Linked DNA regions of Homo sapiens. Each later gene encodes a partner of the first gene's protein in a complex. Each region holds a gene or a part of one and is shown on either strand. Other genes may lie near its edges.

What was found.
Region 2: the proteins of CEP152 (region 1) and CEP63 are in contact, whole or in part, in a crystal structure (PDB 6CSU), measured with the Homo sapiens proteins. Residues at the interface, in NP_001181927.1 of Homo sapiens: Gly1261, Ala1262, Glu1265, Leu1266, Gln1269, Tyr1270, Lys1272, Ala1273, Lys1276, Ile1277, Asp1280, Met1281, Tyr1284, Glu1287, Ser1288, Arg1291, Ala1292, Met1295, Ala1298, Arg1302; in NP_001340037.1 of Homo sapiens: Phe666, Glu669, Glu670, Arg673, Ile677, Arg680, Leu681, His684, Glu687, Leu688, Glu691, Ser692, Thr695, Phe699.

The regions. Positions count from the first base shown.
Region 1 is NC_000015.10:48,797,215-48,814,049, forward strand, and holds the start of CEP152 (centrosomal protein of 152 kDa), read right to left. Parts: upstream 13,856-16,835; 5' UTR 13,747-13,855; exon of another isoform or gene 13,717-13,746; intron 13,594-13,716; exon of another isoform or gene 13,484-13,593; intron 13,381-13,483; exon of another isoform or gene 13,005-13,380; intron 8,443-13,004; 5' UTR 8,436-8,442; coding exon 8,349-8,435; intron 838-8,348; coding exon 734-837; intron 517-733; coding exon 447-516; intron 366-446; coding exon 87-365; intron 1-86. UniProt on the Homo sapiens protein: Necessary for centrosome duplication; the function also seems to involve CEP63, CDK5RAP2 and WDR62 through a stepwise assembled complex at the centrosome that recruits CDK2 required for centriole duplication.
Region 2 is NC_000003.12:134,526,228-134,543,062, reverse strand, and holds part of CEP63 (centrosomal protein of 63 kDa), read right to left. Parts: intron 11,219-16,835; coding exon 11,123-11,218; intron 10,304-11,122; exon of another isoform or gene 10,286-10,303; coding exon 10,163-10,285; intron 5,909-10,162; coding exon 5,795-5,908; intron 1-5,794. UniProt on the Homo sapiens protein: Required for normal spindle assembly.

The DNA.
Region 1 (16,835 bases):
TCACATACATTTCCTGAACACACACAAACATCACGCAAATGCGTGTGCACACACACAAGTTCTTGAAAGTCAAGTTTTTACAATACCTGAAAATGGTTCCATTGAGGATCTGAAAATTTAATTACATTGGTTGCTTGGTTATTAAATTCCTGCTTCTGACCATTGGTATATGGCCTAAAGTTTTCAGGAAGGTGATATAAATCAGTCTGTTCACATTTACTTGGAGGACTATAACCACTTCCACCTTCATCTCCACCTTCTTCAGGATGGTACACAGGATGTCGGTCTTCAGTTTTACTTCTATTTTCTTCCCAGACATTACCACATTTTTCTCCAGCATATAAACTCTGAATTTCATTATAGCCCTATTAGATAACAAGAGTAAAACAAAAGCACGAAGATCCAGTCCCACCCTCACCAAAGTCATCATCACACCAGATACTTACATTTACACTTTGAGATTTGGGCAGCATTTGCTCATTCCAGCTCATCTCCAATTGCTCAGGATGATGTGGTCTCGAGAAAAAGGAATACTTTCGATTTAAAGCGTATCATTTATTTGTACATAGATAACACAAAGAACCCCAAGATTTTAACCTTTTTCCTTCCAATCTTCACCCAAAATTTTAAGAATCAATTTACAATTTTATAATCATGTAATTATTAATCTTCATCAAAAGAAAAAGACTTATAGAATTGCAATATACAAGTGAAAGTGACTTCAGGTGCTTACTGTCCGTCTGTGCCATCCTCGCTGCAGTCCGAATACTGGAGCTCTGGAGAGGAGAGGTCGTCATCCAGCATGTCATGGGGAAGGTCTGTGAGTAACTGCTGCAACTGAGTCAAAAGGTCTGCATCAATATCATACCAACTTAAACACAAGACACCAAGCCAAAGCTGCCTTGGAACGAGTGGTTTTTTACTGTAGAGGTCAAAGAAGTTCATAATTCCCTCCTTTAATTAACTTCTTAAGTTCCACACAAATTATATTCATCATTTCACTTGGGGAAAAGGGAATGCATAATTTTAGGATTTATATCAGAAGGCTTTTTTTTTTTTTAACGAAGATCTCAGATTTAAATACACATAGAGCAGAATTCAAAAACTTTTTTATGGAAACACAGCAAGTCACAATAATGGTACAATCAATGCATTATGTTATCACAGGGCAGGCAGACTAAGTCTCAGAATCCTGTTTTATCAGTAATCAGACCTTGGGGAATTGACAATTAGGCATCCCACAGGGAATGTGAGTAGCCAGATGCACTCTGGCCAGGTGATGAGAACAGCAGCAGCAGCAGGTGGCCTAGAAGCTCTTAAATGCTCTGATAATGTAGAAACCCGTGGGAGTCACTAATTAGTAGAGAGCCATCTAATTCCAAAGATGAAAAGATACATAATACCCTGCTCTCATACAACATCTGAGTAAAAGAAGAGTTGGAAGACTGTTTTCTATAGATAGCACATGCAAAAGCATGACACTACATCTGACATTAAATGTTTGATTTCTCTCTCCTATTATTTTCTAGAAAAAAATCAGTTTTAGCATTCTGCTTATTATATAAACTAGATAGACAAAATTAATTCATTCAAATTTCAAATGTGATAAAAAGATGAGTAAATAAGCTAGTCTGTTAGACATAATTCAATAACATTTAGGATTTCAATAACTGTCTGCTATTGTCTTTCTTCAAAACCCAATATAATAATATTACCCTAAAAATCCCAATATAATGTATTTCTTAAATTATGTAACAATTAGAAGATCAAATATTATGTTACTAAATACTTTTTAGGGAAACTGTTTCTAATTACTTCTCTTTAAGAAACTAAGCACCAGTTTAATTGACAGCTTGATTAAATCCCTCCAAAGGACATAAATCAAACCCCATAACATTGTGCAAGTGGATTTTAAAGACTTTAAATACTTTGTAAAACCTTTCAGGAAAAAAAAAATGAGATGCTCCCTGGTCTATAGCATTTTTTTTCCACTTTACCTGTCATTAGTACAAAAGAAATGGAATGTGTCCATAAAACATATCTGAGTATTATATTAAGAATTACCAAAAAAAAAAGTTTCTTAAACAAAATATGTATAGTAAAAGTTAAATAAATATATTTTATGGAAGGTCTGAAAGGAATGCCCCAAATTCTTAACTGAGCTTTGGTGAAATAAAATTTGGGAATGGGAACAGAGTATGTTGGAGGTGGGTGGGAATACTTCCTCACTCTATATTTATTTCTCATATTCACTGGATGGGTTTTTTTTAAAGGGTTTCTCAATCCATTTGTCATCTAAAGATGCAACAAGAGAAAGATATTTTCTTCAATGAAAAGTTATCTTCATCTTTAAATCTTTTAACGCTAACATTAACACACAAGACCCTCATTAAATGCTCATCTCCACATGCAAGGTACTTGAAAAATCATTTTGAGAATTAGCCATATCAGAGTTGACTGAGAGATATAAAAAACAAGAAATACAAAAGACACAACATGAAAAACAAAACAGAACACATCAACATATTTGTACAAGACATGCCTCAAATGAAAGGTAGCAAAGCAATTCTACAAAGACACAAATGCACTAGAGAAAAAAGTTGCATCTATGAGGTCTTTTAAAAGTAGCACCACTTGTTGTCTAGAATTATGCATCACTGCTTTAAGGAAAAAGACTACCCCCACATGTTACACAAGGAAAAATAAAACAAATCTTTTATACTTACATTAAGTAAAGACTCCTGAACAGAAAGAATATTTTCTTGTAAACCTTCAGTAAGGTTCAAGTACATAGCCTTAAAATTCAGGGGCGCCTTGACAGGGACATCTGAAGAGTACATTGTTTTCCCCGCACAAAAACAAAAAACTACATAATAATTCAGCAGTTATTGTAGCTTTGTGACACCACAAAATTGGCATCCACAGAGAAAAATTAATTTGAGTATAAGCAATCAGCTAATCAAAATGCTTCTGGATACATACATAAACATCAACTAGCAAAATCATCCCTATAGTATTCAGAGTCTTGCAAGATATTTTACATATATGCTAACATTTTAAAATTGATCTTCAAAAAATTTATCCATCAAGTTCTTTGGCATAGCTGGGTCATATTCCCTGGCTTCTGTAAGTTTCAGGGCAGAGAAAAGCTAAATGAAGTCCTCCTAAATAAGGCCATTCAGGAACAAAATTCCACCTCCAGTGTTTCCATTTCCCAGGATCAAAGTGTGCCCTCCTCATATACATTGTCAAATTGCCCTTTGGTCACTAACCTTGTGCAATAAAACACAAAATTGCCGTATCTAGATATGCATGTTACCAAATACAGAAATTTAGAAACTATAAATTTTCCTCATTAAAGATCTATCAAACTTCCAAATACAGATTCAAGAACAGAAATAACAATCCTTATAAGTGATAAGATTTAATACCACTCATTAATTTAAAATTCATCAGACTGCTTTTTGGCAGCAAGCAGCAATCTCAACAGGATATTACTGTGTATTAACCGAGTTTAAAAATTTAACAGATACCTTCCCTGTAAGAAAGATAATTTGCCACTCTAAGGCTTCAGTTGAAATAAATTCAGAATCATTCTATAAACTCCCCTCCTTTTCTACTTCATGTTTCTTTCTTAAAAAGAAAAAAAAAGAGAGCATTTTACTCAAAGAACTTTGTTAACAAAACACTTTGCAATAACCCATGTAGAACATACAAAAGCCTACATTCAGGGGCAAATGTAAAACAGAGAACATGTAAACCTTTTGTTAGGATTTTCAACTTAAATTAACTAAACAGATTATCTTCAGAGCCTATAATCCTCAATATTCATGAAGGCAAGAGGCCTCAAGTTACAAACCATACAATAATCTTCTCCCAAGAGAAAGGGTAGCAAATGGAATACCTAACGGTCATATTCCCTTTGAACAGGTGACCTCTTAGTACGCTTCTAAAAAGATTCTGATATTTTCAAATATGAATTATTAAATAATGCTTTCATGGATACACGCTAAATGTAAACAAATACTAGCTTTACAACTCCCTCTAGTGGAAACAAAATATCAAAATGCTTCCGCAATTACATCAAACAAGGCAGTTAAAAAGTGGAAGAAAGGCTATGCAATGGAAACCTTGCCTCTAAAATACATGATGCTGAGCTCAATGGAGCTTTATTATTCTATTAGAGAAGTACCACTATAAAAACCAAGTCAGTATTGCCAAGTGCAAGTTTCTATCTGCCACCTGCTACCTAAACCATCTACCTTTCTACTCAAGATCATTTTCAAATATGTCATCACTAAATGACCCGTCAACACTAAATGATCCATCATCAGCAAATATTATCTTGATATCATAGATTACCAAGTATTTCTGCCCCAAATCACCAGCTCCAGAATATATACACACATAAATAGATAATTTTACTATCTGGAACCAACAACAATCACAGAGCTACTTCTGGTGACACTGCAGAAAGTACATGTCTACTCCAGCTGACTGTGAGAGTCCAAAATGGCAATCTTGTTTAAGCTGTGGCTTTACCAACAACTGAGAGGCTTATAACAAGCATGCCTATTACAAAAAGACCTTTATCTGGGGCTGGGTGCAGTGGCTCACACCTGTAATCACAGCACTTTGGGAGGCCGAGGCAGTTGGATCACCTGAAGTCAGGAGTTCAAGACCAGCCTGGCCAACATGGCAAAACCCTGTCTCTACTAAAAATACAAAAAAAATTAGCCAGGCATGGTGGTGCATGCCTCTAATCCCAGCTACTTGGGAGGCTGAGGCAGGAGAATCGCTTGAACCCGGGAGGCAGCGTCAGCCAAGATCCCGTGATTGCACTCCAGCATGGGCAACAGAGCGAGACTCCATCTCAAAAAAAAAAAAAAAGAACTATATCTCTGTAATATCCAACTGTGCAATCACAAGTATAGAGACTTAGGTGAAAAGCATTTTTGCAAAGTCATATTGTTACATTATGAGTGAGTTAATACAAGAGCTTCTGAATTATTTTCTGGGACAGCTTTATAAAGAAAAGTTTGCTTTGGATGATATCTCCTTCTTAGCAAGAAGGACAAGTATTACCAGCAGCTCTCAAGTGGTACAATCAGAAAATAATGCCCTCCAGTTAGTTAGGAGAAACATAAGTAATGTGTGACAATTAATTGATATTAACTGACGATACATATCTCTATGATGTCATCACTCTCACTGATCTACACCCTAATCTGCTCTGTCGACTATTTTTAAGAGATGAGAGTTTCAGTTGAAACACTGTGAGAAGCTGTGGTTTATGTACCTCTCTACTATGCCTTTATGCCTTGACTCACAGTGGGCCAACTTTTACTAATGTACCATTAAGAGTTGTAGCACTTTAGAAATACATTATAGGACGTTTCTAAAAAATTCTTGCTTTTTTTTTTCCCAAAATATGGGTATATTTGTGATGGTCTCTGGCTTGAGATCCACTGGTCTAAATATCCTCTAAATATTGAATAAAGTATTTACTAAATCCTTTCCTTTTTCTGAATGTTAAAGGCACTTTCTCCCTTTGACCTTCAATACAAACAATGGAGAGAATAGAAATGGAAAAAGCAAAATCATAATTGTAAAGCTGCTCATTAGGATGGCATGAAGGTTGGAATGGTGTATTCATTGGGATATGGGCCCATGTGGACAAAATCCCAACTGGCACCAAAACAACAAAATTAAACACAGCTTGGAAAAACATGCTGTATTAGCAACTAGCCTTTCATCCCAGGCAGTGAAAATCAGGACTATCCAACCATGTACCAAGACAGGCTCTCACAAACCCTTAGCAGGGTAGACTATGAGTCAGATGTGGTATGCCTGGTAAGCCTTATAGCACATCATCAGGGATAAAGGCATTCCTCCCACATCAGCAACTTGAACACAAAGTGATTCACTAAGTAGAGAAAGCAATATGCATTAGCCCACTGCTAACAGTTATAACCTAGCCACAATCCCAAAGCCACAGTCCCAAAGCTACCAACCAGGTAGACAGGATAAAACAGCTTTTTTTCTTTAATCTCTTAAGGCTGTGAACCATTTGGCTATTGCTGGGTCAGGAAGACTGAGACAGTTAAAAAAAACCTTCTAGATATGCATTCAAGCTTGGGTTTGACCACCCAATTTATTACTTTAACTTGTAGTGACAAAGTATACATACAGCTGAAGATTTGTGAACAGTTCCGAAGTTTGTTACTAAAATTTGAACCTCTCTAGCCTCTCATCTCACTTTTTCCCTTGCAGCAATTATTTTTTAAAGTAAAAATATTTTTATTAACATGAAGTTTTTTACAAATTTAACCATAATCATCATGTTAGAGTCAATTCAGCTATATATCCTTCCACTCTGCTAGAAATACTCATTCTTAGATACTTGATCTTTCAAGAACAACTTTTCCCCTGAAATTCCCTATCCCAGCATACAATCTATCAAAGAGGTGATCCCAAATAGCTGTTTTCTATATTATCTAGAATTAATTGCCTCCTTAACTAGTATCCCCTCTAAAATTTTAACCACACAATACACTGGCAGACCTATCTCTCTAATATATTTCTCAATGAAAAATCACCTGTCAAAATATTTTTTCTTCTTTACAGTAGTGATTATTTAAACTGACCTTCTCAAGAATCCCAGTGGCTAAACCCCAGCCAACTATCCAAGCCCAGTCATGAATACCTCATGCTGCAGGTTCAAAGTAACAGAAAATCCTCATTCCCATCCTTGCCACAATTGTTGTGAGGGGCCCTGCCAAAATCCGGAAACCCTCACCAGGGTCATAAACTCAAATGCCCTCAGGGCCCTGGCAGAGAATTTACCAGAGTGAAGCAGGCAGGTCTGAGTGCATAAGCCCATGTCTGTGTGAGAAGTGGGGACTGTGGCCAGCTGGGGAAGGAGAGCCACTGCTCAGTTCCAGCCCGCCTGCTGCCATGTGCAAATACAGGCCAGGTGTGGCCAGGGCTTTGGATGTTTTTTAGATAAGCCAGAGACTCTGCAGTGCTGCATAAAATTTTCCCATCTTCAAATACAGATTCAATTTTTTAAAAGCACTCTGCAACCAACAATACCTGTCTGAACCAAATCCAGCAAGTTGCCAGTTTTCTATCACTGCCTTAATTCTACCACCAGCCACATGAGCAATGGTCAACTGACCCTATTCCTTGCTTCCTGTTAATACTCATGGTCCACAATAACTATTAAAAAAGACTTTTTTACATGTTAGAAAATGGGTCATATAAAAAATAGCGTCAGGACAAAAGAAGCCTTTTATCACAGACAATCAAGAAATTTGACTTACACTAAAAACAACCAAAACAACTAAATTGACTTCCACCAATAACACTATTACTGCTGCTATTACTATTGCCACCATTTACTGAACATTTGCTATGTGCCAAGAATTCTGCTAAACACTTTACATATAAATAATATGGTCTCTCCCTTTTATTCCTTTCCTTCTATAATCTATTCACCATGCAGCCTTCTGAAAGATCTTCAAAAATATGATATCAATTTTCCCTGCTTAAAATCCTCCACTGGCTTCCCATTGTTCTTAGAATAAAATACAAACACCTTATCATGGCTTTCCATGATCTGACACCCACATCCACCACCCAACACTGGCTCATATATACCCAATACCATGGCCTTCTGGCCGCTCCACATGATCTGTGGCATACACGGGGTCTCTTCCCAACTTCCCAGCTTACACTCATTGGTGTTTTGGCGTAGACTGCTCTTCCTCAGGCTTCTGCATGGCTGGTTCCTTCTCATGAGTCAAGTCTCAGCTCATATATTGCCTCCTCCCACAGACCCTCCCTCACCACCCCATCTACAGCAATCCCCTATCAATTGCTTTCATAGCACTCCAATTTGTTTCCCTGTCATTTATCAATGATAAATTATCACTCACTCAAATTACTTTACTCACTTGTTTACTTGTTTATTGTCTGCCTCCACTAGGATGTAAACTACCCAAAGCAAAGAGCCTTGTCAGACTTGTTCATGGCAATGTTTCAAGCACCTAGAAACTAACCTTCCACTTCCAAAGCCAACCATTACCTCCTAAATGAAAAGAAAAATTTAACCATTTATCTGATGGTATTATTCACAGTTGTGTTTTATTCCTGTCTCAAAAACAGAAGCATTCCACTTATTCACCTTTTCAGTCTAAATAGCAAGCAGATTTTAGGGTTGTTTTTTTTTTAAAAAATCCAAATCCCTTCAAAATGACACAAGATGATACAATTTTGATCAAGAAATAAAACTTGTTAAAGATTGGGTTTAGTGTCTCTTTTTTTTTTTTTTTTTAACAACTTACCTCTTTCTCTCTTTCATAGTCCTCTTCGTCATACTCTTCATCTTCATTTTGCACTGGTAGTGCCACACTGCCAAAGTCTAATGACATGGTCCTCCTGTGGGAAGGGAAAGATGTTTGGTTTCTGGACACCACATAAAATCTCCCCAGGACAAACTACATAAGAGATGCCATACATACACAAAGTGAAAAGACAGAAACAGACTGGGAGAAAATATGTATAACTCAGTTATGGCCAATAAAAATAATGGTGATTCACCGAAAATAGCTATATGACAGCAATTCATGGAAAAGAAAACATGCAAATAGGTAATAAAGCTATGAATAGACCTTTCTAGTGGTCTGAAGAGTATAAAACAGTAAGATTTTTGCCGACATGAAAAATAAGATGACAATAATAATAAACTAGAAATGTGCCAAATGTAAAAATCTTAAGCTCAAACAAAACTTCAAATGTGATATATTAAACATGGCACAGGCAGTACCCTATTGCTTCATTTTTTTTTAATATCAGAAATCCAAATATCATGCTTTACAAGAAGAAGGCCCCTAAATCATGAGTGAATGACTACTACCCAGAAACCATTTACAATTCAGTCAATGCCATAGAGTGCACAACAAAATATAAGTCTTAAATGTCCTCCTCTTAAGCTTGATAAAATCAGGTTCTGGCAATATACTCGGGAAAAACAGAAGTGAAGGCTGTGAAGCTCCACCACTGTGGACTTCCAATTCCAAAAGCAACAGCAAGAGTTCCCTGGGGAGCAGTGACTGCTGCGGCAGAAGCAGCAGCAGGAAATGGGTTTTCAACTACTTACATTCAAAAAAGCTGCTGCTGATTTAACTTGTACTTAGGGATCCTGACACTATACATAAACTCCTCAGAACTTCAAAGCTCTGAACAATCACAACAAAAAAGTAGGCAGGTGTCATCAATTACCTGGCCTAACACTGCCCTCCATTCAGTCCACTGTTGTTCATGCCAATGAAACGCACTTGGATGTGAGCCTGAGCCACAACTCATTCACTACACCTTTCAAGCTCTAAAATGTCATTAAATTGGAAGTAAAATCAGAAGCATGGAGACCCAGCAATCCAAATGCATTTTACCATAGAGAACTTAGCTCCCTCGTCTTAACAGATACGAACTATATCACAAACTTTTGTGGAAGCCAATAGCTCTAGAGCAGACAATATCCCATTTCATCAGATCTAAGATGTCTTTGATTCTATGATGCAGTTCCATTTGTAGCAGTAGGAACGAGATGTAGCCAATCAAATTATGACATAACATTAATTTTAGGACGCAGTCTATGTTGTAGATATTAAAGTGTGAAAAGAAAATATGCAAGCTAGAATAGATGAATATGGTATTAAAGATTAACATACATATGAACTTCAGTGGTAAAAATCCCCCTATGACAAGTTTTTGTTTTTCAAAGACTGAGTTATGTTTCTTGGCCAACCTCTAATTTGCAGTCTACCTTCTAATCCCTTCCTCTCTGGTCCCTACACCCAACCCGTCCCTTTAAACTCATATCAACTCAGACTATACCTCAACTTAAAACCCTCCAGCCTCTGCTTCTCAGACCACACCTATTCCTTTCTACCCTTGTGACAGGGCTAAACGGGGGAAGAGACATGCATATCGAGGAAAATAAATCTATCTATAAGAATCCTTTTGTATGTCAACATAAGATGAAGATATGAATATGATAAAAAGCCTGTAACATGAAATGGTGAGGGAAAAACACACAATCTCATGTCTCTAGATTTTTTTCCACTATGCAAATAGACTTAATATTCTACAGAACACTATATATATTGAAAATACTAGCCCAATTAAATCCTATGTCCTTAAAAGAGATGCCTGTAGTCCCAGCTACTCGGGAGGCTGAGGAAGGAGAAGGGCGTGAACCCGGGAAGCGGAGCTTGCAGTGAGCCGAGATTGCGCCACTGCAGTCCGCAGTCCGGCCTGGGCGACAGAGCGAGACTCCGTCTCAAAAAAAAAAAAAAAAAAGAGATGAAATTAAGCTGGACCTTAAAGAAATTCCTGAATCCTCCAGGCAGAAAAAATCCTTTCTGTTTCTGAATTCTGTGTCTTCTACCTTTCTTTCATTCAAATATAAATACAAGACGAAATATGGAATTTGGGTTACTTTCTCCTTCATTAAGTTAGAGAAGAGAGGTTTGTTCCCATCCTTTATTAACCTGCCATCAACTGATGTTGATTATTGAAAAAGAACATTAAGATTTATAAGAGCCTATTGCTAAAAATGTAGCTACTAATATTTTAAATAGACAGCTACTTTTTCTCAGATAGAGAATACTTAGGGTTTTGTTTTTAAAGAGAATGTAAAATATCAAAGTATATATCTTTAATGTTATTTTAAATTCAAAACATGTCATTAAAGAAGACATCTAAAAATACCTGAAAAGACCAAAATCTCCCCCACTGAAGAAGGTATAAGTTTTCCTTATCAGAACTATAAACTATAAAAGACTTTAAGAAATGATTTCAGACATAAAGGGAAACCTGATCAACTTAATGTGGTTAAAAATATATATAGTAAAAAGGTAATACATATTTTAAATGAGACTTAAAATAAAAGCTAATACCTTAACTTATTAATCACCACTCATTATCACTGCTACCAGAGACTTTAGTATAATATTCAGAACAACAAAAGAGACTTCTTTAAAAAAAAAAAATAGCAAGATAGTAAATCCAAAAGCCATAAAGAAAAATGTGATGGAAACCTAACCACAAAAAATAAAATTTTGTTTAAGGCAAAAGACATCATTAACGAGTCAAATATTATATATGAAAAAATACATCAATAACAAAGTCAAGAAAAATAAGAATAAAAAAAATTTGCAAAGCACCTGACAAAGTCCCAATATAAAATTATTACAAAGAAATGAGAAAAAGACAATCCAATATAAAATTGGGCGACTGACATGACAATTTATTTTAAAAAGTGTAAATCAATTAGTTTGAAAAGATGCTTAAGCTCGTGATGTTTCAAAGAAGTGTCATTTAAACAATATGCCATTTTCAACCACTAGATTGAAAAAACAAACAAACAAAAAAAAAACTTGTTATCACCCAGTGGTGACTATTTTGTATTTTGTATGGCTCATGAGTTGCTGGTGAAAATATCAACTGCTAAACCATCTTGAAAACTATCAATATTAATATATTGAAAATTAACATTTACACTAGTAAAATTATTTTGAATTAATTTGTCAATACTATGCCACTAGTAAAAATACTGAAAATTTTCTATATCTATTGACTCAAGGCTGACCACTTGAGAAATCAAGATGCAGATTAAGTATACAGTATGTTTTGGTTTTCTTCTTCAATAGCAGTCTGGTAGACTTTCTTCCTAGATAACTTTTTCTGAACCCTTAACAAGACTATAAAAAGTATGTCTTGTTGTTACACTCAGATGGATGCTCTGACCCAGCATTCCTTTTGTTGTCCCCGGTTGTTTTCTCTGCCCTCCTTGCAACAAAAGCAATGGGTATTTGGACAAAAGATTACAAAGCAAAAGTAGCATTGTTTTTGCTTCATCTAATAAACTATAAGCACCCTGAAGGCAGAATTAAAATGTATCTGCCTGCTTGCACATGGTGGGTACATAACAAATATTTGTTGACTGAATATGATATAGGCATGTTACCTTATACGAATTCATTACTTCAATAAAATTTTATTGAATACCCACTGTGTTCCAGATCATATCCTAGATGCACCTAAGACATGGTACCAGCCATGAGGAGCTCACTGTCTCTGCTCACCCTCTCTTAGATAGAGCCACTGATATAAACAGTTACAATAACATATTGTAATAAATTCCGTAGTAGATGAAAGTACAAAGCACAAATTACTTTTCCTAAGAAGAAAGGATAGTTTAGAGAAGTTTTACAGAAAAAAAAGAGCTTTTAGATTAGAAATAAATCTTAAAGGACACAATATGGCTATAAGTGGTTCTAAGAATGAGGGCACTCATTCAGACAACCTGGGCTCAATTCTGGCTCTTCTATTTATCAGCAGTGCAATCTTGAGCAAACTGTTTCTGCTTCTACGTTAAAGAAATGGGGGTAAAAATAATACCTACTTCAAAGATTGATTCTGAGGATTCACAAGATACTACATGTAAAGTAATTAGCACTATGTACCAATCAATACATTGTAGTTTTATTACTATTATGACATTATTACTGATGAATAGGAGTCTGCCAGCTACCGAAGAGGTTTAGGGAATAAAGAGGATTCCGCATATCTGAGAAAAGGTGAATGTGCAGCCTATGAGAAATGTCACTTCTAATAATGCAACCTCCTATGGAACAAAAATGCCACCCTCCTTCAAGATGCCCTCCCAAGCCTGTTCCCCCATGGAGCTGGCCACTCCTTTGCACTTTCAGACTGTATTTCTTATGCTTTTCTTATGGCTTCAACTTCAGCTTCTCTTTAGTTGAGTGCATTCACCTGTCTAGGGAGTGCATGTTCATTGTCACGCACTATGAAGGTATAAGGTGATAATAGGCTTAAATCAGACTCAAGTTCATGACTACGATATAGGAAGGGTTATAAACCCCCACAAAAGGGGTTTCTAAGAACTGCACTTGGAGTTGGGAAATTCTACTTACTTGCTGACATAACTCGCCTTCTAGAATGGAAATAGCCAGAGCACATAGCCCGGTTTAGACTTGCAACACCTGGTGGAGACACCTTATTCATTCATTCGACAATTTACCAAGCACTGTTCAAGATTACAAAGTTTAACAGGACACGATGAAGGGAAAGAAAATAGACATATAAACAAATGATCACAACATCTTGTGATCAGTGCTAATAACAGCACTTTGGACAAATTGATTCAAGTTGCCCAGAGGGCGGAGCGAGTAATGCTAATACACAATAAGCATCCACAGGCTGAGCGAATGACCTTGAGGAACTGTTTGGCGTCAGCTACGGCACTACAAACATGACCAAAGCCGCACGGGGCCCAGGATGCCCGGGGCTACTGGCTTCGGGTGCCAGCGTCACTTGTACTCGGTCAACACACGTGCACAGAGCACCTACTGTGAGCCAGGCGTGACGCCAGGGTGACCAAGGCGGGGTCCGCAGAGTAGGGTCTCAGGGCGACCCCAGCAGCCTGGAAACGAGGCGGGCTTCCCATATGTCACTTCTAAGTAGGATATTGGAGGAATGAAGAGGTCTAAATGACACGTTAAGGTAAAAGCTGAGCCCGCAACATGCGGGCAGTCCACCACCGCGGGATTTGGGGAGGGGGCAGGTCAGCCCCCCCAGGAACCCTCAGCCAGCATCCCGAGGACCCCGCAACTCCTCTAACCCCAGGTCCAAGCTCACCCGTGAATCAGAACTTACCGGAGGCCACGGAGGCTGTTACCGCGAGGAAACTCTAGTCCTGGCGGAAGACCAACTTCTAGCAGATCCCCTTACCCTGGCTCTAGTCCACTAGCTCCTTCCTAGTCACAACCGAACTCACGGGGCGGAGGCCCTTAAGGAGCACTCGCATCCTTCAATCGCCGACTAGAAGCTCGCCCGGTGGGCGGAGCCGTGCCAGCTCAGGGCAGAGCGAGGAGGCAGAAGTCTCCGCCTTCCTCAAGCTTGGTTGAGAAGTCCACCTGCAGTTGCAAAGTACGGCTGTTTGAAAGCGGGCGCCAGAGGTGGCGGGAAGCTCCCCCTGTGCGCCCATTGGTGGATTCGAGAGCCAATTACGAGGAAGTCACCCCGGAGTGGGCGGGCTGATCGGTTGCCTAGAGACGCCGAGGCGCTTCACCCGCTACCTTCGGCCAGGGTGCAGCAGTCTTACGGGGACCCCTTGCCCGTTTGGTACCGGAGACTGCAAAGGTGACTCGTGCCTCCTGCGCTTCAGCACACAGAATCCCGCAGATTCCCCACCGAACTCTTGCCTTAGAGGTTTTTTACATTTGCCCTTGTTTTCTAAGGCGCCTGCTTCCCCATTATTTAACAGCCTTAGATATTTTGCTTTGTCTTCTACCTTACTAGGTGCCGCTTTGTTTACATTTTTGCTTCTTTAATTACTGATAAGATGGCACATTTTTCCACGTGTCTATTTACTACTCTAATTTCCTCGGGTGTGAGTGTTCTTGTCACTTAGGTGTATATTATTAACCTGCCCCTAAAGACAGCGCCACCCAGTCCTCAGTAAAGCCCAGTACTGTGTCTATCTTCTCTGGCTGAAAGGGTTCCAGTGAATAATCAAGGAATTGGTGGCGGCAGGTTCACATATCCTTTCAACCCTTTCCCATGTGTACTGGCACGGAGTAAAATGGTTGTTCGAGGCTCTTCATACTGTGGCTGGTTTTCCTTTGCTACTTCACCGTCCGCCCCCATGATGCCTACACTGACCCCTGTAACCCCATAAACTGGTATAGGGTTTGGCAAACAACAGGTAATTTAACCCACTGTAATAGAATGAACGAAATCACAGCCTGAGCTAACAATGGTTCCCAGAGCGCTTTTTTTCTTTCACCTGCTGTGAAAGCTGTTTCTTTCACCTGCATCGCCTCTACCTTCTCCTGCTACTTAGTTTTGAAGACAGACTAGCACCTCCTTTGAAGCCTTTCATGACACACACTCCCTCACTTCGCAAAAATGATCTTTCCTACCTCTGTACACAGTGTATCCTATATATCCTATTATAGTTCTTTTATCTACTGTAAGTTTTTGTGTGTCTTACACTCAGTACAACGTGAATATCTTGAAGTACTCACTTTACTTCTTGGGTGTCTAACATGACCCTGGTAGGCACTCAAAACAATTATGTTAAATGAGTAAATGAATAAATGAACAAATAGATGAAGATTTTGGCAGGGGGGCAGGCAGAAAAAGCAAATAAAAGGCCTTCAAGTAAATGGCATTTGTTGAATCTGAGCCAAGGCATCTTAGTGAGAATTAAATGCACTTTTCACTTTTCACATCCCACTGAAGTCGATTGGCAAACTGTATGTTGCATTCTGTGCTGAGGGTTATGATGGAGTGCTGCAGCAAGAATGCCAGGTGATCCCCATGCACAAACAACTGCTTCTTAGAAGGATGAAAGCATAAAACGTGTCAGGGTAAGCACATGAGGAGGCAGTGTTTATAATCCATTACACAGTGCTTTACAGATTGGTAAATTCTTTCACAAGCATCATCTCATTTGGTTCTCACTACAACACTGTGGGGGGTTAGGACAGGTATTCCTACCCATTTTCCAGTTGAAGAAACTTACATAAAAATAAATTAAATGACTTGTCCAAGGCTACACAGCTAATACAAGGCAGACAGAATCTGAAACCAGGTCCTTTATCTCCAAACCCAGAGCTCATCACTACATACAAAATATTTTAGTGAGACTAGCATATACGTGACAAAGAGGGAAAATAAAGAATAAATCAACCTCCCATCCTGCCATGCCTCTAAAAATGGTTTTTGGTGGAGTTATGGATATATTCAACTAAATTTCTTTGACCACCTATCCTGTTTAAGTCCTGGCCTAGGTGCAGGGTAGGACCCCTATGCTCAAGGTACCAACACTCTGAGTTACAAGATGCTTACGTAGAAAGATAAATAATAATAAAAATTGTTTACTAAGTGTAATAAGAGTAGAATAGGCAATAATTCTAGGGAAAGTGAACACCTAAAGATGAATCTATCAAGGCAGGTTCAAGGAAGAAGAGAAGGAGAGAGCTCAACAGGTCAGTTGATTAGCATGAGTGCAATTTAAAGGCCAGACCAGCAAAAGTGCAGGAATCTTACATTTAGATGTAAGTCTGGAGAAGAAGGCAGGAAGGAGGTGGTCCATAGAAGAGCTTTAAGCCTGGGAGAATAGGAAGGGCATTCTACAGAGGTCAGGTAATGGTGTGCACAAGGAATGAATCTAACATCCAAAGAAACACAAGCAGACAGAGGCATTCTGGGATAAGAAAGGCAAGTGTGGGAGAAGAAAGTAAAACTGCCAAAGATCTCAAATGCTGGACAAAAGATTATTTGTGAAACGTTGGCTCGATGTTTACCTTGCATGTTTTAAATGGGCACACCTATGAGCTGGGTGAGACATTTCAAGAGAAAATGTCACATTGTTGATGAGATGGGGTCCCTCCCACTAACAAGCATTTATAAAGGTAAAGCTAAACCATTATTTCTCCTTTTTCCTCCTTTTTGGTGTCAAAGCTATCAGGTCAAAGCAATGTCATCACAGGAGTGCTATCCAAAGTGCTATCATCAAGGAGTACTATCTTCAAAGGAACACAGAACTTAGAGTAAGAAGATCTGAGTTCAAGTCCCAGTTCTCCTACCTACTAGCATTGTCCATAACAATTTAACACTCAAAAGCCTCAAAGTCCTTATCTGAAAATAGGGATGATAATACCCACTTCTCAGGATTGTGGCCAAAAAAAAATGAGATGAGATTGTGAGAAACAGCTTTTAAATGTAAAAACATTATT
Region 2 (16,835 bases), on another chromosome or scaffold:
ATCAATACTAAGAAAGTCAGAAATAATTATTTAAAAACTTCTAAAATAATGATTATTTCTGATAATTATCTGGCTTTAGAGGTATTTTAAGGCTGGCATATTTTTAAACTTTTTTTTTTTTTGCACTAACCACTAATTCTTTGAGCCAGAAACAGGCATTCCTCTTATTAATCTAACATTTAGCATTCTATTGGAGTGGGTAGAAGTTATTTCAACAATACAAATCACAGCAGAGGTGGTTAAAAGTAAAGAAGCAATCAAGAAGGCAGTTTACATCAGGGAGACTGAAACTGAAACAAAAGGCCAGTGTGGCCAGCTAAAGTGTGAAAGAGAGTGGAGAAGAAATTGGGGAGTGGGGGTTGAATTCAAATCCTCTTCTGGATTTGTGATAGCTACTTCCTGGTGCTTCAAGAAAATGACTCTCCCAGAGAGTGAGATTACTATGAACAATGTGATATGAAGCAACAAGGCTTTTTATTTTCCAAAGAATCCCAGTATGAAGGTACGGCCATTGTAAGCATCAATCCCTTACCAAGCTCCCCATCACTGTCAACTCCAAATGCGCCAGTGCAGGCCACAGCCTCACAGCATTTCCACTAGAGAGCAGCCTAAAGAGCCTATTAACAACACAGCTCCTAGTAAGATTCTCTTATCACTGTTGTGTCTATGCTACTACGAACTTTTAAACAGTAGGTCTAAGCCAATTCAATTAACTCTGATAATTCTACCAAGACAACAGATCAACATTTGAGTTAGGGTCATTTTTTTCTTCAAAAGTTGTGACAGGAAAAGGATGCTTTTAAAAATACAACATATATACGTATAAATATATTTATATACATATAATTAACAGTGGATTTAAAATTAACTTGAAGAATATTTTACAGCTCATCTAAGTATTTCAAAAGGAAAACATAGAGCAACCTCTACTTTTTTCACATACTGTTTATCAGTTAAATATTTTACATTTTATGTTGGCTTAATATTTTAATTTTTTTCAAATGTTCTTACTGTTCTCTAAGATTTCCTTGAACATTTCCTTTGCATTATGTAGGCAACAGAAAAAGTAGCCTTCTAAACAGAAATGACCTTAGTTTTAGACTGTACTGATCCTTTTCCTATACTATATAACCACGACTCTTTTGTTACATCTAGCATTACAGTTTAACAACTGTACTTTTTAATAAAATACATTTTAATATTTGATAGAACAAACATCCCCCCATTACTCCTTTTTAAAAAATGCTGGTGGCCAGGCGCAGTGGCTCACACCTGTAATCCCAGCACTCTGGGAGGCTGAGGCGGGTGGATCACTTGAGGTCAGGAGTTCGAGAAAAGCCTGACCAGGATAGTAAAACCCCATCTCTACTAAAAACACAAAATCAGTTGGGCATGGTGGTGCACGCCTGTAATCCTAGCTACTTGGGATGCTGAGGAGGAGGATCGTTTGATCTGGGAGGCGGAGGTTGCAGCGAGCCGAGATTGTGCCACTGCACTCCAGCCTGGGCAACAAGAGCGAAAATCCGTCTCAAAAAAAAAAAAAAAAAAAAAAGTTGGCTAGTATCGTTCATTTATCATTCCATATGAATTTTAGAGTCATTTTGTCCAATCCTGAAAATGTAATAGTCAGTAAATTATATAACCATTTAAAAAACAAATTTAGATTCCTATCAAATACCTTACACTAAAGTAATTTTTAGATAAAATGTATTAAAAAGAAATGATAAAGCATTAGAAGAAATTTGACTTAGGTAAGACTTTATAGTATGATATCAAAGATAGAAACGCTGAACAAAAAATTGATAGAATTAAGCAATTCTAATTAACTGTTTATAAAACAATTGTACTTCCATAAAAAATACTGGGCAAAAATTAAGGTAAATTGAGTACACATACGCAACTGTAACATAATAGCAAAGGGCTTATATTTCATACTTAAGTGTATGGAAAGCTCTTTCAGAATAGTAAAATATAAACATCCGGCCAGGTGCGATGGTTCACGCCTGTAATCCTAGCACTTTGGGAGGCCAAGGTGGGCAGATCACTTGAGGTCTGGAGTTCAAGACCAACATGGCCAACATGGTGAAACCCTGTCTCTACTGAAAATACAAAAATTAGCTGAGCGTGGTGGTGAGCACCTGTAATCCCAGCTACTCAGGAGGCTGAGGCAGGAGAACTGCTTGAAGGGAGGCAGAGGTTGCAGTCAGCCGAGATCAGGCCACTGTACTCCAGGCTGGGCAACCGAGGCTCCATCTCAAAAAAGAAAATAAATTAAGATTTAAAAAAAAAAAAAAAAAATCCTAAAACAAAGGTGAATAAAGGACACAAATAATTTATGAAAAATGAAGATGGCCATAAACAGATGAAAAAAGTCCTCAACCTCACTCATATTAAAACAATGTATATTAAAACAATGGTATCATTTTTTTTCACCTATAAGATTGGCAAAGACAAGCCTAAAAGTGGGGAAAGTCAAAAGAAATAATAGCGCTCAATGTGGGGAAAGTATGAGGAAATGGATATTCTCACATACTGCTAGAGAAAGTCTATCAATCCATCATTGGAGAAAACTTTGGCAATATATATTAAAATATTTGAAGGTACTCTGATACAGTAAATCCAATTCTAGGGCCATTTCCTAAGAAAATAAATACTCCTAAATGTTTATATAAGGATGTTAATCTAAGCACTATTTACAAAAGTGAAAAGTAAAAAACTAAATGTTCTACAATAAGGGACTGGTTACAAATGTCATTATACATTTAACGATAGGGGGGAATTCTACACAATCATTATGACTACAAATCTGTTGACATGTCATATTTAAAAAGGAAAAATTTTAAAGCTGTGACGTGCTTAGCATAGTACCTGTCACTTAGTAAGCATTCTATATATTTTAAAGTTATTGTTTCATGGAAAATTTCAAGCATACACAAATATAGAGAGAGTAAGATGATGAACCCCTATCACACAGCTTCAAAAATTATCAACACTTTGCTACTCTCAGGACTTTTTAAAGTTTGCAACTACCCCTCCTTTCCCATTCACAGTGCATATAGGTTTTTCCTATCAAAAGTACATGAATGTACTGCACACTGTATGTAAGCATACACAAAGTCAGAAGAAATTTACACCAAAATTTTATTCATCGTAAATCTCTTAACGGTAGAATTATGGGTGATTTATTTATTTCTCATTTTATCCGCATTTTCTCATTTTTCTAAAATAAGCATGTATTATGTAATTTTAATAGCTGATTAAAAGAAATGAATTCAAGCAAACATATGTCAAAGAAGGAGAAGTTGTTTCCGAATTATACTTTTAGATGTTAAAAACATATAAGAAAAAAATTATACAGAGATTTTTTTTTAATGGAGGGTAGGTTAATATCCACTTACTCAGCCTCCCAGGTTTTCTACTGTCATTGTTCAATGGTGACCCACCTTTCAACCAAATGCAATACATCAACCTTGACTGGATTCTGACTCAAACATTCAATTGTAAAAAGATAGTTTTCTGGACAACTGGAGAAATGTGAACAGACTGGATATTAAATTATATTAAGAAGTTATTATTCTATTAATGTGATACTGATATATTGTTATTTTTTAAGTCCTTACCTGTTGGGAAATAAGATGATATCTATGATTTGCTCTGTAATATTCCACCCAAAAATAAGAAGTAGGGAATGGTATAGAGTTTCAGTTTGACAAGATAAAAAAGTTCTAGAGATCTGTTGCACAACAGTGTACATATAGTTAACATTACTATACTATACATTTAAAAATGGTTAAGGTGGAACATTTTATGTGTATTTTACCATAATTAAAATAAAGATTGACAAGATGATGACAACTATTAATGCTACTTAATGGATATAGATAAGTTTATTTAGATGTTTAAAAAAATGATGATCATACAGCACTGGTATATACTGAATCACTGAAAGATTTAATTTTATTTAGTTTGCTAAGGGAGAAGGATAAATACATTTATATGTAACATTTTTATTAAACAATCAGACAGTTTTAGGTTAAACAAAACTATCAGAAGAATTAATTCAAACACCCTTAGTAGGAAAAACAAATGTTGGCTGTTGAAAGGCTTCTTACCCTAGCCCTAGCTGAATTACAGTAAGTAAAAATCCCATTTTTACTAATAATGAAGTTTTAATTACATAGAGTCAATAATCACAACAGTAATATGAAATAGGATAACAGTAATTTGAAGAGAGAATCTATAATCAATAATACTCCATGGATAAATAATTGAGAACTGTAAAAATTAAGACTCAATTTGCTTTTTTGTCAATCTGAAGGCTACAACTAGAATATAACAATATCTTGGTCAAGTGTGGTGGCTCACACCTGTAATCCCAGCACTTTAGGAGGCCAAGGTGGAAGGATTGCTGGAGCCCAGGAATTCAAGATCAGCCTGAGCAATGCAGCAAGACCTCATCTCAAGAAAACCAAAAAAAATTTTTTGTTGTTAAAAAAATATATATATACATATATATATATATATATATACACACACACACAATTTCTTATTAGGTCTCTATGGTGCTTTGGCATTCAAGTCAAAAAAACTGGTCCAGACATCTCAGGATTTCACTGGTCTGTCTGGCTGCACAGCTTGCTGTGGCCTAGAAAATAAATTTCTTCCTTGCAATTGTTGTGGACTTTTCCTACCATTTTGAATGAAGTCACTCACAGCAGAGCCACAGCCACTGTCGGTAGTTTATCAGACTGCTGATATTTCAGGGAGACGAACAAAAAGTTAATGCATTATTGAGACTTAAAATAGCAAATAAATGCAGATTATTTTTAAAAACCCAAAAAGCCAAAAAAAAAAAAAAAAAAAACCCTCCCTTCTAGCTATTTCAACTTACCCAGGCTGTTCCCTCATTCTATAAAACTAAGATAACTACCAACCTTGACAGATTATCATAATATTAAACAGAGAACACATACAAGAAGCACTGGGTCAATGTCTAGCACATAACAGATGATCACAAATTTTTTTAGTTTCCTTTATGTTCTTGATTCTAACTGAAAAAGGAATGAGCTGAATATGTTCTTACAAGACATATTCCTAAAGTAGGTGTCTGTTTTTTGGTTTTGCTTAAGCCATTACAAGAAAAGTTTCTATCAATGTTCTAAAATAAGTGTTTTTGTTACCACAAAGACACCACTTTTAGTTGGTGTGCACACCATTGCCATGTGACTCTCTCCGTATCTGTCCGCATAGGCAGACTAACTGAAGCTCCCTAGCTGAGACACTTCGGCCAAGATACCCCAGTGACCATAGGGATGGAGCAAGGCACAGACTATAGTAGAGCTGAGAGACCCAACAAGAGACAGAAAGACATGGAAAAGGAGACAGAGGGAGGAATGGGACTGTGGTAGGGAAGAAAGAGAGGGGAGGAAGAGAGGGCGACAAAGCTAGGGACCAAGATGAGGAGAGTGAACATGGATGCAAGCATAGAGTGAGCCTGAGTAAGCAAGACAATGACAGAGAGTGGGTGAGCAAGTCAGAAACAAGCAAGGAGGCAAAGCAGCAAGCGGGCACAAGGACATGAGCCTGGACAGGAGAGTGAATGCACGCATGTGTGAGGGCAGGCGGGAAGAAGGAGCTGAGTCTAGATGCTGAGGAGAGGCTTCCTAAACAAGAGAGCAGGGTTCGTGGAGAGAAGCTGAAAGAGGCTAAATGGTACTAGGACACTGCATTAAGGTAGTTCAAACTTGATCAAAACCTATCTGCTTCTCATTATTTTAAAAAGTCTTAGGCCTACCTGAATTATCTCTGATTGTTCAGCCAGAGCCTTCCTTTGTGCCTCCAGTGAAGATACCTGTTGCTGATAAATCAAGCGTTGCTTCTCCCAGTCCAGCGATTTCTGACGGAATTCCTGAGGAGGCAATTAGAGTACTTAATTTCTGAGTGCTTCTCCTCACTGTCACTACTTCCCAGACTCCCTTTAACTTTAATTTCTCCCCATGTCCCTGGGTACGCTTGCACCTTTCTCCACAGCGGGAGCCCCATTACTCACTCAGCTAACAGAGCTGGAGAGTAATACTAACTTCCTCACATACTGTGCCTCTGGATATCTGTCTTTCTAAATTTAACACCCTGATGGTGAGGAGTATGACACGCAGATGTTAAGCACTGGATTCAGATGTTTTTCACTGATTTGCTGCCACCTAAGGGTTGTTATAATTTTCTAGTGAATTTTCAGAAAACTGATGCTAAGATAACTAAAATTTTAAAGTATGATTACAGATATCCCTCGCTATCCAAATTCTTGATATCCAGACCCAGGAATTGAACAGATTAAATTTTCAGATAAGTCCCTTGGTAACCCAAATCTTACTTCCCAGTATCTAAAACTAAGGAACCAAGTAGATTCAGATAACACAATATCCTTTGATATCCAAATTTGTATTATCTCAACAGAGGAACTGCAAAAGTTTGAATAACAAAGAAAATCTGTACCAAATTTTAACAAATATTTGTAACCCAAAGCCAAACAGTTCAAAATTAATGATGGATCAATAGTAACATCAAATTGCATGATCAAGAAAGTGATTTCAATATTTATGAAAATGGGGCAAATCAAAGGGAAAGGAAACTCAATCTTTCTATCACTGTCTTCCAGGACCCTCAACTCCAGAAGTCTCAGGCTCCTTAAGATAAGTGTTGTTAACCAAATTTCTGATATTCATTCATTCATTCAATCATTCTACTATATATGCCAGGTACTGCTTTAGGAGTCAGGGATACAATACTTAACAAAACAAACAAAAACCCTAGTCCTACTCAACTGGGGGCAACAGATGACACATTTCTTGTATGGTATAGCAGATGGTAATACACGTTTTGGAGAAAACAGAGCATGAAGTCTTCACAGTTGGGGTTGTAATTTTTAAAAGGGATGGCCAGACTGAGTGAAAAACATTTAAGTAAACACCTAGGGAGATGAGGGTGAAGTTACAATATTCTGGGTGGAAAGAATAGCCTTGAAATAAGAGCATCCTGGTGTGTTTAAGGGTGAGAAAGGAAATTGGTGTGGCTGGAATAAAGTGAATGAAAGGGAAAGTAGGAGAAGACAAGGTAAGAGAGATAACTGGGAATGAGACCACGTAGGCCATTAGGATAACAGATTTTTAAGAGAAGCTGCTGGAAGGTTTTTGTATAGGAAGTGATATAATTTGACTTACATTACAGCAGAATCATTCTGGCTATCATGCTGAGAAAAGAGAAGTCTAGGATGACTCCGAGGTTTTAGGTTGAGCAAATTGAGTTGTTATCAACTAAAACATGAATCAGTGTTGGGGAGATGAGGAAGAGAAAGACAGGACCTTTAGCTTGGACATGTTAAGTTTGACACATTTTAGACATCATAGTGGAGATAGGAAACAGGCAGTTGAAAGTTATTCTGTCATGAAGAGGCGAGGTCTTGGCTAGATATATAAATTTAGGAATTGTCAGCATATACACAGTGTTAAAGCTATGAAATTCAATGGGATCAATAGGGGAGTGAGCGTAGATAGGAAAAAAAAAAAGGAAAGGAAAGGTCCAATGACATGACCCTAGGTGGTTAAGGAATAATGGAGACTGAGGAGTGATGAACAAGGAAAAAATGAGAGAAATGTGGTTTTTCTCAAGCCAAGTCAAGAAAGTGGTTAAGGAGTTGGGAGAGACCAGCTCTCCTACAAAGCTGTAGGTAGGATGAGGAAGATAAGGACCAGCCCACAGGCTTTGGGAATGTGGAAGTCACTGGTGACCTCTATGTGAACAGCTTCTGCAGTGTGAGGGGACAAAAGCCTTATTGAGTGGGTACAAGAACAATGAGACAAGAGGAACTGGAGACAAGTATAGATGACTGAAGTAATTTTTTAGTTATAAAATGGAAGAAATAAAATGGGGCAGAGGAGGAAGAGACGGGTCAAGAGAGGATATTTAAGAGGAGGGAAATTTGGATGCTGGTAAAAAATATCCAGTAGAGAAAAAAAATTAAGGGTGCAGAAAAGAGAAGGTGAACTGCTAAGGTAATGCCTTGGGTAGAAAAGGGGGAGGGCATGCGTAGTTCCTCCAGGAAGGAAGGCAGGGTACATGGGCACAGATGCAGATAGGTGGGTGGACACAAGAGTTGGAAGTCTATAAACAGAAAGGAAGATATAACCCAAAGGTGAGGATGTGGGGAAAGGTGTTGAGAGTTTGAGGAGAAAAGCAGAAGTCTGAAATACTCATTGTGGAAAGTAGGAGATGAGAGGAAATACAGTATGATTCCAGGTAGCATTAGGACCCATTTGAGGTTAGTGACCATGAATTTAAAGTGAGAACAGACAGTATGATTAGGTTTTTCTCTAGCCACGTTCAGCGATACATGACAGGTAGAGAGTGGGCAGAAAGGTGGACTTAAGCAGAACTGTGATTCTGCCAAGCAAATATGAGGAAGCAAGAGAGGAGCACAGGAGATGAAGGGGAAAGTAAAAAATGTAATGACAGAATTTAAAAGCTGGCTAAGGACCGATAAGTGAGAACACCAAGTAGATAATGGAGCAGTAAAAAGGTGGCAGAATTTAATCATTTTAAGGGATGGTTAATGATTACTGAGAGTCAAAGGACTAGAGAGAGTTAGCTGAAAAGATAGGGATTGGTAGTCTGATAATTGAATGCTTGAAAATGAGATTCTAGAGGGGTGGCATATATTGGTAATGACAAGAGCTAAGGAATGGCAGTGGGAATAAGTAGATGAGACACAAAGATAATCAAACTATCTATGGAGGAAAGAAAGCCAAGAAACTGTAAGGTCAGAGTATTATAAGCATCATCTCTCCAGATCCTAAGATCCTCAAAGTTATGATAAGAGTAATGTCAGAGAGAATTGACAGTGAGCTGGGTGCTGAAATCAATGAGCCAAGGAAATAACCCAGAGGTCAGACGATGACTATTTTGGTTGTTATGTTCATTGGCTGGCAGTATAGGCTGGTAACATGAAAATCAAAGATGGGGTTTTTGAGGTAGAAAGAAAAGAGAATAGTCAGGAAGTGGCAATGAGAAGCAAGAAGGATATAGGGTTTGGGGGGAAAAGGTATTGCCGAAAAGGGTGGAAGGGAAGCAGTAGCTGCAGTCTTCTGATTCTAAGCTCTTCAAATGTAAAAAAATATTGAGATATAAAGGAATATTAAACACAGAAATTATAATTTTAAGTAATAATAATATACTGGCATTTGTGGGTGACAGGTCACCCAGAGTACAAACTTGTAAGTGATCACACAAAGATGTTGAACAATGTTTCTCAAATCAGAATAAGCTAGGGGAGCTGGATACAATGCAGATCCCTAGGTCCTATGCCATACTGCTGGATCAGCATTTCTGAGAGCCTAAAAGCACCCTGGGAATTCTTATGTCCAGTGAAGAACTAATGGCAAGGACAGACGAAGAGAATGACAGCCTTGTGCTCTTCCTTCATCTACTCTTGGTACTATTAGCTCACCAGCTCCCCTTAAGTTCTCAATATATACAATAATCATGGAGTTATTCAGTCTTAATAAAAACAAAGTCAGCAGAGAAGGAAGTGAATGCCTTACTACATCTAAATGGGAATTGAGAATAATCTGATACAGAGATTACTTTGTACGAAAAGTGCCATGTACTTTCCACATTTACTAAGCCCCCACTTTATTAGGTGCTTGAGATACAATGATATATAAGACAAGAACAATGTCCATAGAGGACTGCCTATAACTAGTGGTCATGTTTCCCAATTGGAGAGTTACTGGCATTTGAGGTACAATAATCCTTCCTGTGTGGAACACTCTTAGGCATGTTTAGTATCCCTGGTCCCTGTCCCCTAAATGCCAGTTTTATTAAGCTCAGTCATTTTGACAACCAAAAAAATATGTCTCCGTACATTTGCAAATGCTCCCTAAGGGTGGTACTGCCCTGTTGAGAATTACTGATGGCCAGTAACCCCGTTAACCCAGGGAACTAGATGATGATAGGATGTATGGTGGATCACCCTCTCACCTCTGAAATAGCTTAGTGGCAGTCCTTAAGATAGTAGAAAATTGGTTCCAGAAAATAGTGCCATTAGAAACCGCATTTTCCTACGTGAAGGCTGACAATCACTATGAACAAATTATTACTATGAACATACCTCTATTTTTGCAGTTAACCTCTCAATTTCAGACCGATCTTCCCTGTGATTTTTGGTATTTCCTCTGAATTCCCTCATTTGCTTTTTCTGAAGCTTTTCATAGCTTCTCTTCAGTATGCATAACTGTAGAAACAGTTATTTCTATATTTAAAGTTTAAGAATTTGTAAGAAGTAGTGGTGAGACAAATTGGTATTATGAAAACAAGAGCAGTGCTAACCAGTACTACTGAGAACATGTTAGATTTCCAAACTAAAACACAAAAGGAAACTAAAAATTAAATATGTAAAACAAACACTACTAAAGAAATATATTCAAAGAAAAAATTTTAAAAAAAATTTTAAACAAAAGTTTTGTATTACAATAGCCCTGCACTTAAAGACCCTACCACCCAGCCCCACAATAAAGCAGCAAATAAAAACTCTTTTTCTTTCCTCTAGGTCTGTGATTCTCAAGCCATGCTCTTGCAGGGCACTGATATTCAGGATGCAGGAGAAGAGTACTTTGCAATTAAATCAGAATAAAAGCAGTTTTTTCCAAATCTGAAGAATAAAATTGAGTTAATGGACAGAATTTTCTTACTTGTCTTATTTATCCCAAAATGTTTCTTAAATCTTTGGATCCTCCATTATTTATAATCTAGTAACTGATAAAAATTAAAATATTAAATGTAATTTTTGGTATCAAGTATTTCACAGTATTACATAAAAACAGCTCTATTTCTTTCAGGTACTCAACCAAGAAACATATTTTAGCATCTCTTCTAGGTAGTATCAAACCTACAGTTAGGCAAACCTCTTTACCTGGATTAAAGAACAGAGAAATGGATTCCCACTCCTGTATCTTTGATGGAGTATGTATTTCCCACTTTACAAAGTAGAAACTGGCTTTCATTAACAAAGTTCTCAAGGGTGAAAGAGAGAGAACTACACACACAACATTTAACAAAACTAAAATCTCACTTCTTCATGTAGTTTCTTCAACTCCTGCTTATATTCCATGGTCATCTCTTGCTTGATTTTTTCATGTTCTTCTACCTGCTGATGCAACATTCCAACCTAAAAGCAGAAAGGTGGTAGTATTTTTCACTATTAGCATTGAAATAACATCCCTGAGATATAAAAATAGAAAATAATCTCTGTATTTATTTGTAAATTCAAGTTCTCAAATGCATATATATGGTGATACCCCACTTCTTAGGAAGTCAAATACCTAGTTATTTAAGAATTCTTTACACTGCCAAAAAATAGTGAACAAACAGCTAGTTTTTAGAATTTCTAGGTTTAGATGAAGACTCTCTCTCTTTTTCTTTTTTTCTTTTTGAGATGGGAGTCTCACTCTCGCCCAGGCTGGAGTGCAGTGGTGCAATCTTGGCTCACTGCAACCTCTGCCTCCCAAGTTTAAACAATTGTCTGCCTCGGTCTCCCAAGTAGCTGGGATTACAGGCGCATGCCACCACACCTGGCGAATTTTTATATTTTTAGTAGAGACAGGGTTTCCCCATCTTGGCCAGGCTGGTCTTGAACTCCTGACCTCGTGATCCACCTGTCTCAGCCTCCCAAGGTGCTGGGATTACAGGCGTGAGCCATCGCGCCCGGCCGAAACTGTGTCTCTCTGTCTGATTATCCTACTCAACCCTTTTCATCAAAAAAACTCATGAAAATAAGAAATATAAAGTGTTGAGAGTCCTGGAAACCAACAATACTTCATAAAAAATCTAGAAGACCTTAGGAATAATTTCTCTACAATAAAGTACAGAATAGTAACGTCAGACAGGAAAACAAAAGGAGGTTTGTGCCTGCTTTACCATTCACCCAACTCCAGAGAAACGAGTTCCACCAACCATGGTAAGGAAGTTATCCTAACCCACTTTTCAATGATTTGATACCAGTGACACCTATTTTCTGCCAAGCCTTCACCTCCACAAGTATCCAGCAGTATTTCTTTTAATAACCAGCTAGAATTTCATCTACTGGTAAGTAGGGAGGGAGAGGGAAAACAGGGAACACAAGGGAGTAAACAATCACAATCTACAACAGTAAATTTTTTTAAAGTACTAGAAATAAGCTACTTATAAGAATGAGGACTAAATGCAATTCCAATAAAAAATTATAGTGGAATTTATTTTTGTAAGAAACTTGAAAAAGTCATTCTAAAGTTCAAACTGGAAGAATGGGTAAATACAGCCAATAAAATGGAAAAGTCTAGTTTTAAAAAAAGATGTAAGTGAATGATGTAACTGAATTTCTGGATGAAAGGAAATTTTCTGAGCTTAAAACTAATGAAAAAGTAATTTTAAAATGATAAATTTAACCATGTAAAACTTCTATTTTTAAAAAATCCAATTAACAAAATTAAAAGGTAAATAAATTGAGAAAAATATTTACAAAAAAATCAAAGGGCTTTTAACTTTTAGTACACAAAAGACTTACAAATTTGTAAAAAGTATTAAGCTCTCAACAGAAAAATAACTCAAGGACAAGAATGATTCCCACAAAAATATAAATGTCCAATAAACATGAAAAAAGGCTTAATTTCACTAGCAATCAGAGGAAAACATCCAATGGCATTTTATATCTATCAAATTAGCAAAGATCTTATAAAACGAAACTTGTGCGGGTAAGTTATCTGGAATCAAAGACCCATAAAGTGCTGAAATACAAAGCACATGACTTTTCCAGAAAGCAATGTGGGAGTCGATATTAAAACACTTATAAATATTCTTAACCTTGTTGGGCGCGGTGGCTCATGCCTGTAATCCCAGCACTTTGGGAGGCTGAGGCAGGCGGATCACGAGGTCAGGAGCTCAAGACCATCCTGGCTCACACGGTGAAACCCCATCTCTACTAAAAATACAAAAAATTAGCCAGGTGTGGTGGCGGGTGCCTGTAGTCCCAGCTACTCGGGAGGCCAAGGCAGGAGAATGGTGTGAACCCAGAGGACGGAGCTTGCAGTGAGCCCAGATCGTGCCACTGCACTCCAGCCTGGGCGACAGAGCAAGACCCCGTCTAAAAAAAAAAAAAAAAAAAAAAAATTTCTTAACCTTGACTTGGTAAACACTACTTTTAGAAATCCATGTAAAAAAAATAAATGTAGAGCCAGGTAGAGTGGCTCACACCTGTAATCTCAGCACTTTAGGAGGCAGAGGCAGGAGGATGGCTTGAGCCCAGGAGTTTAAGACCAGCCTGGGCAACATGGTGAGACCCTTTCTCTACAAAAAAGGAAAAGAAGAAAATAAATGTAGATGTTAAGAATTTGTTGGGGCCGGGTGCGGTGGCTCACACCTGTAGTCACAGCACTTTGGGAGGCCAAGGCAGGCGGATCACTTGAGTTCAGGAGTTTGAGACCAGCCTGGCCAACACGACAAAACCTCATCTCTACCAAAAATACAAAAATTAGTTAGACCTGGTGGCAGGTGCCTGTAATCCCAGCCACTCAGGAGGCTGTGGCACAAGAATCGCTTGAACCCAGGAGGTGGAGGTTGCACTGAGCTGAGATGGCACCACTGCACTCCAGCCTGGGCAACAGAGTGAGACTCAGTCTCAAAAAAAAAAAAAAAAAAAGTCAATGGGGATTTGTTCTTTTATAAAAACTGGACAAATTGGAAAAAATCTGTATGTTTATAAATAAACTGTGAATGAATATAATGAATGAATGTACATAATAAAATATGCAAACATTAAGCTGTATTAAAATAGTTAACATGAAAAATGCTTACCATTTAAAAGACATATCGATATAAAAAGTATACTATACTAAAATCCCAATTTTGTGAAGGATTTTTACTGAAGTCTACTTACATAGCTTAAAGGAAATACACCAAATGTTAATACAGATTAACTCTGATTCAAGGTATTATGATTATGTTTTGCTTCATAGTTGGTCTTTTCTAAATTTTCTCCAATGGCTACTGCTTTTATTAGCAAGAAAAGAACATTTTAAAAAAGAAAAGAAAAGAGGCTGACCCTAAGCCCACCTACTTTGCTTTGATAAAGATCATGAGGACTCATCTGTTTGATTAAAACAAGTTGAAGAGTCTTAACTATTCGTATTTCCTAGCCCACAATCCACCAGAAGATCCAAAATTAGAAAGTATGGTAGGTAGAAGGGGTAACTGCAATGCTCAGCAGAAATGAGCAATAGCTTTTAGCAAAGACAGAAGAAAAAAGGGAAACAGATTATCCCAAAAGGAGACTCATGTCTACACTGCTATAACCCGTAAAGACAAAGCACATCAAGCACATCAGTATGTAACAGCCATTACTCCTAACATACCACAACCAAGAGAAAAGGCAACCCTCAAAACACCACACACACACACACACACACACACGCACACACACACACACCCCTCCTTAAGCTTTCAGTAGTGTGGCCTTTTGGCCCTCTATCACATGTTAGACAAGACCCACCTGCAGAATTATAAAAACTTTAAATGATTTCATAAGATCTGCTAACAGCATGGAAGCTGACTACGGAGTTCTCAAACTTAGCCTAAAGAGTTCTTTGACCAAGGTTTTTAAAAATTGAAGACAAAGAACGGGGGAGAAAAAAACCAGGGGGAGGGCAAGATGGCTGACTAGACACAGCCAGGAGGAAAAGCTGCCAATGAGGGACTGAGACAACTGGTGTGCTCCTAACAGATCTTCAGAGGGGGTCACTGAAGAGTGGATGGAGGGAAGACACAGAAGCTGGGCTGAAGGGGGAGGAAGCTGGGAACCATACATGAGGCGACTACGCACCTGGACTCATTCCTGGCCCAAACAGCTCTGGAAAAACAAGTGAGCTGAACTAGCAAGGAGCAACCCACTCTTGCCACGGGCCTCTGGAACCTCTCGCCCACCATGAACACTCAAGTTGACAGGGTGAGCCACTTAGAGAAGTGATAGGGGCAGCAAGCCAGCTGATATGGAGCCCAGAGGGTTTGGTGTGAGAGAATCTGTGGTGGGGCATGGCCAGGGATAGCCATCCCCTTAGGCTTAACTGGCACCCATAGGAGACTTTAGCTCTAAGGCAACTGTTGGACCCGAACTCTGCAGGGTAGTCTTGTCCATCATATGGGGCCGGTCTCATCTGACCACCCCTTGGCCTGCTGGCCTCTCCCAGGGCCCCAGCCTGGCCACACATGCTTACAGGGCAGCCTTGGGTGGCCTGGGGGACTGCATCATAGCTTCTGTGCTGGCAGACTATGCCTGACCAGCAGAGAGCTCCAGCAGAGTGGCCCCCATGGCTATGCACCAGCCTGTACATTCAGTCCCCATACTGCAGCTTCCCTAGGCCCATAGCAACTCCCCACATGGCTTTGCTGGCATGTGCCTATGCCGGCAGGTTTTGCTTTTCTTGCCCCACCAGCAGGCAAGTGTACATGTATCCACCTTGACACTGCTGTGGCGGGAGTGCAGTTCATTTCCCATGTCCCCACTGACCACCACTGCAGACAGAACCTTGGTGGGCACCAAACCAGCCAGCCCTGCCTCCACCAGTGCCCCTTCCTTGCACCAACACTGCCGCAGGAGTGAAACTAGGCACAGAGAATAACAGATCCTCCCCTGCATGGAGCAACCACTCCTGTTTGCAGTACACAGAGAAGGCACACAGACCTGCAACTGCCAGCGCCCTGCCCCCAAGCCAACACCACCACCAGTGCCACTGTGCACAGTCGCCAGCAGGGGTCCCCGCTCACCTCCCAGCTGTGTTGCCTCCTCCACTGTGGTGAATGCTCTCAGGGAGGCAGGCACCCTGGCACCCACCAGCACCCTGGCATAGCTGACAAGTGTGTCCCCCACTGCACTGCTGCTACCACTGCTGCTGGCACATGTAAACAAGGATGAATCCCACTGTCACCACACTATGAAATGCTTTGGCTGCCACCACCCATTGTGGTGTAGTGACTAGTGGTCTGGGAGCACTCTGACCCCCCAATGCAGTGGATTCCTAACTTCAAGGAGCCAGAGAAAAAAGTTGGGGCCCAATACGAGCCCCCCCAGAGTTAGAGCACACAGTCTAGGAGTTGGGGGCTGAGCAATGGCCACCGAAAATCTTCCAGAAACAAAGCCAGTTGGCTGAATCCACCTTATACTACAATAAAACTCTCAAGGTCATCAAATATGGTAAAAGGAAAAAAAAAAACCTCATCCAAGGGTCAGCAACTTCAAAGATTGAAGGAATGTAAGCCCACAAAGATGAGAAAGAAATAGTGCAAGAACTCCAAGAACTCAAAAAGCCAGAGTATCTTCCTTCCTCCAAACAACCATATCACTTCTCCAGTAAGGGTTCAGAACTGGGCTAAGATGGCTGAAATGACAGAAATATAATTCAGAGCATGGATAGGAACAAAGAACACTGAGCTACAGGAGTATACTGAAACCCAGTCCAAGGAAGCTAAGAATCATGATAAAACAATGCAGGAACTGACAGACAAAATCGGCAGTATAGAGAAGAATGTAAGCAACCTGATAGAGCTGAAAAGCACACTACAAGAATTTCATAATGAAATCACAAGTAATAATAGCAAAACAGACCAAGCAGGGGAAAGAAATCTCAGAGCCTGAAGACTGGCTTTCTGAAATAAGACAGTCACTGACAGACAAAATAGACAGTATAGAAAGGAATATGACCAACCTGATAGAGCTGAAAAACATGCCACAAGAATTTTATAATGCAATCACAAGTATT